3 separate regions of the Homo sapiens genome follow, and regions 2 and 3 are each linked to region 1. The links come from fine-mapping of genetic effects on gene expression. A gene starts in region 1. Each other region holds a variant in brackets. All regions are shown on one strand. Distances are between the middles of the regions.

Region 1 (2,660 bases):
CAGTCACAGCAGCTCGTCACCCCTGGAGGTCTACCTGCCATCCTTCTTGTGTCACCCCTGGACGTCTACCTGCCATCCTTCTTGCTGCAGAGCTCCCTCCTGCCTACCTCTGTCCTCAGCACAGAGACGAACCTGGCCAAGGCTCCCATTTCCCAGATGTCAACACCAGCCCAGTAAACCACAAATGCATCCTGTGTGCAGGCCTCCCCAGTCACTCTCAATCTATTAATCCAATCCATCCCAGCACCCCAGCCCAACATGCCACCCAAACCGCCTCATTCCAGGCCCCCTCCCCCACCCTTTCTTTCTTTGCCCAGAGGACACCTGGCTGCCCGAGTTTGTGTTCCCACAACTGCCCCCAGCATGGGCTTGCCTGGGCCAAGAGGGCCCTCCCGAGGACTGGCCAGAACAAGGAAAGGGACAGGAAAGGCCACATCTGGATCACAGCCCTGAAGCCCCCTCCCCCAAACCAGCCATCACTCTCTCAGAGCCCAACAGTAACCTCAGCCAGGGACGACTTCCTCACCCTCCTGACCCCATGCATGCCTTTGCCTGGCCAAGACAGCCCCACAGGAGCCCCTCTGAGGAAGGGGTCCTCTCCTCCTCTGACCCCCAGCCCTTCTGCAGCAGGCAGCCCTCTCCCATCCCCCTTTACCCAGGAGCCTCAGCCCAGGTCTGGCCTTAAGACTTTTAACCTTCACCACGTGGCCCCCAGGCCTCTCTGCTGGCCCCCCTGGCATCCCCATCCTGAAACCCACCTCCCTGAACCTGGAGCCAAGAGAGAAAGGGGGAAGAGCGGGCCATGGCTCCCTCCTCCAGGATGGAGAGGTCTTGGTAGCAGGGGAGGGCTGTGGAGGAAGGGATGGCAGTGGGTGGAAGCTGAAACTGGGTGTAGAAGGAATAAAAGGGATGGACTCTGAGAATTCTCCCACAGCCCAGCTCTTCCAGACTTAATATTTTGGACTACTATTCTTTGCTCCCCAGCCCCACCACTGCCTCCTCCTCAAGATCTTGGGCTCAGCAACTGAGGGGGGGCGGTGAAGAATTTTCACCCCATTGTAGGATGCAAGTCGGGAGGAAAGGCTCTAAAGAGAAGCAAACTTCTCTGTGGCCTCCTTCCACTTACAGCTCTGGGACTCCATTGGGGGGTGGGGGGGTGGGGCAGGGGATGTACTGACCCGGGACCCTGGGCCTGGGCCCTGTTGGTGGGGAAAGTCTTCCGGCTGAGGGTTGCTCAAGTCAGTCTGTCCTTCTGTAGGTCAGAGACAGAAAGGCCCCTCCTTCAAGACTGACACCCCCCGACCCCGGGCTCTCAGCAAAAGGATAAGGTGGCAGGGGCCGGTGGGGGGCGGGGGGTTTGAGGAAGAGTAACGTCGCAGCTAAAGCAGCCAGACCTACCCAGAGCATGCAGGACAGACAGATCCACGTCATCTTTGCTGGGTCCCGTCACTGAGGCACGCCCAGGGCCTGTGAAGAGCCCCTGAAGCTAGAGTCCCCGCGGCGCTGGCAGAAGGGCTCTCTGAGTCCGCGGCTGCTCCGGCTCCGCCAGCATCTGCTGGGCCTCTCGCCCTGCTGCCTCCAGCTCACCCTCCCTCCTCCTCCTCCTCCCCCCACTCCACCCCTCGTCCCAGCCTCCTCTCTCCTCCCTCCTCCCAGGCTCCACCGGTGGCCTTGAGGGTCAGGAACCCTGCTTTGCAGGGGGTGTAAAGGGGACAGGGAAAAGGGAAAGCTACCAGAGGCAGGGCCCCCCCAGGCCGTGCCCCCCACCCCCGGACACACAACCCCTGTGTGCCACCAAGGCTCCTCAGTCTTCTGATCTGGTGCTGGTAGGCCTGGAGTCCTCCCTCCTCACTGCAGACCCCCGCCCCTGGCAAACCAGCCTGGGGGCCTTCACTCCTGGAACCCTCCAGACCACTGATGGATGAACAGACAGCCCCAGGCCCACACAATCAGCACACTCAGGGTGCCTTGGCCCCTCCCCTTCTCTGAGTACCCGTGCCTGCCTTCCTGGCCTCCTCGGAACACACATGCATTTGCACACACAGACTGGGACAGACTCTGGTGCCCACGCGCCAAGCTCAGAGCCCAGGACAGGCCTTAACACAGAAGAAATAGGGCCCGAGACTGGGGAAGAATGGCCCTGCCCCCAGGCTGTGGGTTTCATTCCAATTTTTTTCCTATTTCTTTTTTTTTCCCCCTTCTTTCTTTCTTTCCTGCAAACATCTGTCCCAGCCTTTCCTGCCCTTCTGAAAGGGAGCCCCGCTCCAGGCTCCCGCGAGAGTGTGTTTTTCTTGACTGTACCCGGGGCCAACATTTGGTTTGCATTTCCCCACTTCCTCCCCCTCCTCCCCTCTCCCCCTCCCTGGGCCCAGTTCTCCCCTCCCACCATTCCACAGGCCTATTTCTTCCCCTCAGTGTCCCCTGCCCACCAGCCCTCCCCTCCCCTCGCCCCCACCTCTGCCCAGGGACAATTGTTGGGGGTCTAGAGGGTGGAAAGGAGGCTGGGTCAAAACCCAAAAGTATTCCCACGGAGCACTAAGGGGGAATCCAGCAAAGTCTGCCCCAGGCCTTCATTGTCTGGAACCACCACGTTCCCCTCCAAAAAAAACCCTTCCTCTTTGAGCTCTGGCCTTGGCTGGACCAACTGAGGGTGGGTGGGG
Region 2 (2,660 bases), 190 kb before region 1:
GCCTTGGCCTCCTGAAGTGCTGGGATTATAGGTGTGCACCACCACACCTGGCTGGCAAACTTACTCTGTAAATGGCCGGAGAGTAAATATTTCAGGCTTCGCAGGCCATGCAGCCTCTGCTACAACTACTCCACTCTGCCACTGCAGCAGGACAGCAGCACAGGGAGGATGCAAGCCAGCAGGTGTGGGGGCGCCCCAGTAAAACTTCATTTACAAAAGCAGGCAGCATCCAGATTTGACCCATGGGCTGCCGTTGCTGACCCCTGTCCCACACCCAGCCTTCCCCTGAGAATCATTCCCCTATTCCCAACTTTGTTCTCTCTCCCTGTAAAATGCAAAAACCTCCCACATCAGGCAGACAGAGAGCTAAGGTTTCATATTATCTTAGCAGACCTTTTACTTTGCCCAGGAAAACCAAGGCTTTGCTGTTTTTAAGAACCCTTCCAAGAGGTGTCTACAACTACTGCTTCTGTGTTCCCACACTTCACTGCAGGAAGTGCTTCCTACTGTCCAGCTTCAACCCCAGCCCCCTCTGTGATGACCCCCTGCTACAAAGAGGACTGAATTTGCCTCTGTTCCTTGCCCAGGGAAGACACAGCAGGCCTCAGCCAGCTATGGCCTCTGATGCACCACAGAGCCCAGCACTCACCCTGCTCCCTGGAGATCTCAGGCTTGTACCAATACTTAGAAGTGTCCTGGACAAACTTCACTTTAGCCCGCGTCTCCGGGCTGTTGTCTAAAGCAGGAGAAGGGAAGAAAGTGTTATGGGTTAAATTGTGTTCACCCAAAACATACATCAAAGTCCTGGCCCCCAGTGCTTGTGAATTTGACCTTATTTGGAAATAGGGTCTTTGCAGATGTAGACAAATTAAGATGAGGTCACACAGGATTAGGGTGAGCCTTAATCCAGTATGCCTGTATGCCTGGTGTCCTTACAAGGAGAGGAGACAGAGATACACACAGGGGAGAGCACCATGGAAGGTGCAGGCAGAGACTGGGGTGATGCGTCTACATGCCAAGGGACACCAAGGATGCTGGCAGCCACAAGAAACTGGGAGAGAGGCCTGGGACAGATTCTCCCCTAGAACATCAGGAAGGAGCCAACCTTGCCAACACCTTGATTTTGGACTTCTAGCCTCCAGAACTGTGAGAGAACATATTTCTGTCATTTATAAGCCACTAAGCACATGGTCCTTTGTTATGGCAGCCCCAGGAAACTGACATCAAAAGCTGATGTCCTCGAACACCATGCGAACACAGTGGAAGGGACCTTCGGCCTCCTCATCCATCCCCTATCCCCTGCCCGCCATCTGGGTGGCTGAGCCACCTCCTGGTGGAGGGCCTGGCACTGCATTCCCACAGAGCCCACTGAAAGCCTTCCTCCACCCCGTGTCCCCCTTTCCCTAGAAGACTGTGACTAAAGCCTTCCTACAGCTTTTCTCCCATGGCCTAAAACACTTGCTTCTAGAACCTTTCTCCACAGGTTCAGTTTCTCAACTTCAGCATACCCACCATGAAGATGAGGGCAGAAAGATCCATTTCTTCCCCCTTTTCCCCAGGCCTCTCCTCACTTTCCACAGGGAA[G/A]GCCTATGTTCTGCATCACATAGAACAAAAAAAAAATCACTTCTCTTTGGATCAAACAGGTGATGGCTGGCCTAGAATCTAGAGGCCATCTACTGCATGTCAGGCACCCCACTTCTCAGGCAGACAGCACCCCCACACACACCCATGCCCAGACTCTGCAGACCTTGGGAATTTGTCATAGAACATTAGATTCTGGAGGGAGCTCAGACAGGACACAGTCCAACTGCCTAATTTTACATAAAAGGAGGAATTCAGGGATGAGAAGTGACTTGCCCAAGTCACACAGATGGTGACCTTGGTAAGAGGCCCTAGCAGTCAGTTTAGGACCAGCTAAACTGTATCTTCCTGTCTAAGCATCAGGATGTGCGGCCCTCACTCTCAACCTCTTCCTTCAGCTTTTGGCACCAAAGAAAACACAAAAAGGGAGGGAGAACAGAAAAAGATGAGGATTCCACATTTTTCCTCTCCTGTCTTCAGAGACAGAAGTTGGCATGAAAGACACTGCAAAGTTAAGAGAGCAGATCAGGAGACACAAGTTGTGTCTCCAGTGCTTAGTCAATTTCAACCTATGATTTACACTCCCTTATGCTTCTGGGATCTGTCTCCGGGCGAGTGTGAGGGGAGAGGTCAGCTCCCTTTCCTGGCAGCCGTGTGCTAAGGAAGGTCTCTGGGTTAGGCAGCTGGGCCATGCAACTGCTGCAGGCTGCCTTTCTCTGTCTGAAGCCCCAGGCCCCACTGCTGCCGTGGCCTGTTTAACGAGCTGTCAGAGGCGGCTGCAGTCCCACGTGCCTTCCTGTGTTGACTCCAAAGGCTATTTTAAGCAGGGAAGATGGTGGGAAACAGGAAGTGTCCCAGCTACTAGAAGTTTTGCATCCTTCAAGGAGAGGGGCTGGGAACCAGATGTCCCCGGTGGGCGGCAGGAAACAGGCAGTGCAGGGTCATTCTAGGTGTCCTGGCTTGGCAGGCTCAGGGCAGGACCTGAGAGTGACGCCGGGAGAATCTAGGGAGCTGGGGCCCATCTGAGGCTGCCCAAAACATTCTAAATCTGCCTCAAACATCCAGGGCCACTGTGCACA
Region 3 (2,660 bases), 160 kb before region 1:
CCTCCAAAGAGCTAAGGAGCTGCAGGGCAGTGCCTCCCTCTGCGGAAGGGTAAGACCCTGCATTCCACTCCCACGGGGCCAGCCCCTCCCCTGCAGAGCACCAATGGCCCCATGGCACCAATGGCCAGTCAGGGCCACTCACATTCTTTGAACACAGTGTCCCACTGTTGTCCCCCTTGGCAAGCCCAGATCCGCCTGGAGTGCCTGGAGAGACATGTTCCCTCTCTCTTGTCTTGCTCTATGGGAGGGGAGACTGGCGTGGCAGAGGGGAGAGAAGAGAGCCCCATTGTTCCTTAGCCAAGCTAGGGTGTCTGGACACAAGCTGACAACCAGTGTCATGGAGAGAACACCCTCTCTCACGTCCCAGAGTCTGACTGATAATAAAAATAGGCCTGCTCTCCCCACCTCCCTCCCTCCCGCCACCACCCTCCACCCCAGGACTTTCTCAGTCTTTGGCCCCATTCTCTCTCTCAGGGCCTCTGTCTCCTACACCCACCTAGGCAGAGGCAGGTGCCTTGCACAGACACACATGTGCATGCTTGCATGTACATACACACACACACACACACAGCCTAACAGAAATGGCAGCAGGACACTGGGATGATGGGGGTACATAGTGGGGCCACTGGGTCACCCTCAGAACCTCTAGGGCCAGCCCCTACCCCAGCAGGAGGCCGTGTGGCCAGAGGAAGAAAGGAAGAGAAGCTCCCAGGAGGCTGAGAAGGCTGGGGTACCCTTATGACAACAAAGTATCTTTAGGACCCTAACACCCTATGTTCAAGGAGCCCTGGGCGTTCTCTAAGGGCTGCTTCATACACGGGCATCAGGCCTTCCCCACAGCCCTGCCAGGATGAGCAGTTATCCCAGCCCCAGGGTTCCACACAGGCCCCCAGACCTGAGGAGCAGGGCACCAGAGCAGCCCCCTTCCCAGGGAGGCGTCACTCTTCTGCCAGGACAGTGCTGTGCTGGACAACAGCTCACTCCAAGGCTCCCCTAGCATGAGCCAGACTGGAGGCAATTAATCCCCTTCATCTGACACACACACGCACACACACTCACACGCACACTCGCACACCCTGCAATTCTGGGAGCTGTAGCCCTGACACAGACCGATACATGTACTTTGGCAAAGCACTGCTGCCCACCACCCCTGGATCACGTGACGAGTACCCTGGTGTCAGGCTTCATGATGTGCCTCCTCTGCACCCCCCAGACTGGCCACTGCCACCCTCACAGACCC[A/G]GCTCTTCTTTCCAGTCTTCCGATTTCCAAAAGACTGGATTCCTCAGGTCCAGGTAGCAGGGCTGGGTGTCCGACAGCATGCCTGGGGCTCCAGAAGCGAGGGGATCCGGGAGGCCACCTGCTGGGCCAGGGTGCCAGAAAGCCACACGGCGATCACACTAGCAGCCCTAGGGCAAGCCATGCCAGCTCCCCTTGAGGCAGGCCCACCATCCCAGAACCTGCCCCTACCCAGGCCCAGCTGAACACTACACTCCCCACCACTGGGCTGAGAGAAGGGCAGAGGAAGAAGAAAGGAGGGAGGGGCGGTTGAAGGGAGCAGTCTGCTAGAGCCATCTCCTGATCATCCCTGGACTGGGAGAAGAAGGGACCATGGAGGCACCAGATAACTGACATTGGGAATCAACAGTTCCCATTTCCCCTAGGCCTTTTCCTGGAGCTGCTCAGGGGCATGGTGTAGGGCAGGCCTGAGCATGGCATCTTCCCTGACCCAGCCTCCAGTGTCAGAGGAGCAGGGGAAGGAAGAGGTGATTCCCTGGCCAGGGCTCAACGCCTAAGGGCCTGCGTGTCCCAGAGGCCAGGGGTAGATGTTAGTGGACGGCATCATTCTCAAATGAATTACTGTGACCCCAGTGAAGCATCCACAAGGTCCAGGGCATGTCAAACCACCGTGCAAAATACACAACAGGACAGGACTATCATCTGTCCACTTCTCAGACTGGGAAATTGAGCTCTAAACAGTTAAGAAACTTGCCCAAGGTCACAGAGGTGGTCTCAGGCAGGGCCAGGACCCCAACCCAGGGCTTCTGACTCTTGGCCATGGGATCAGAGATTAGGAGTGGGACCAGAGGGGGTACGCTGTCCCCAGGGTGTGCCATGCTCTAGAGTGGACAGAGCAGCAGGGGCTGGGGCACCACTCTGTGTTGTGTCTGGTGGCCCCATGCAAAGCTCAGCCTGGCTCCTGCCGAGACCTAGCCCTGCAGCCCAGGCAGTCTGGCCAGGGTGGCCGGAGTGCTGGACTGTCCAGAGCCCTCCTGAGCACCCTCATTGCAAAGGCCTGCATCTCCTCAGGGGACCCTGAATGTTAGTCTAGTTATTCCAGGCATTGTTCCCAGCAGGCAAGGCCAAGGCTAGCATGAGGCCCATGTTCATGCAGAAGTGAGCTCTGGCTCATGCAGACAGGAGGGAGAGAGGGCTGGAGAGAGGAGGGATGGAGAAGTAAGTGAGGAGACAGAAGAGAGGATAGTGAGAAATGGGGAAGGAGAAGGAGAAACAGATGGAAACCAGAGAACAACAGAAGAGGGAGAGGAAAAGACAGAGGAGAGAAGGAAGAAGGTGGGAAAGATTTGGAAGGAATAGCACATGAAGAAGGAGTGAAAAGAAACTGATGCTCAAAAGTGGGCCAAAGAGCTGGAAAGGGAGA

What was found.
Region 2: its variant is fine-mapped to the expression of TNS1 in whole blood (INTERVAL, PIP 0.99).
Region 3: its variant is fine-mapped to the expression of TNS1 in whole blood (TOPMed, PIP above 0.99).

What each region holds. Positions count from the first base shown.
Region 1 is chr2:218,001,442-218,004,101 of GRCh38, forward strand. TNS1 (tensin 1) reads right to left here and starts at 1,554. Exons shown (of 33, transcript NM_001387777.1): 1 at 1,399-1,554. The coding sequence starts at 1,431. RefSeq lists enhancers at 1-498, 499-999.
Region 2 is chr2:217,814,263-217,816,922 of GRCh38, forward strand. TNS1 (tensin 1) reads right to left here. Exons shown (of 33, transcript NM_001387777.1): 25 at 650-736. Among named protein-coding and RNA genes, the nearest start is that of SNORA115, 18 kb to the right of the region's middle. RefSeq lists an enhancer at 1-314. The variant G/A (reference allele first, on the strand shown) is at 1,585.
Region 3 is chr2:217,838,517-217,841,176 of GRCh38, forward strand. All of the region lies in intron 19 of TNS1 (tensin 1), which reads right to left. Among named protein-coding and RNA genes, the nearest start is that of SNORA115, 6.1 kb to the left of the region's middle. The variant A/G (reference allele first, on the strand shown) is at 1,241.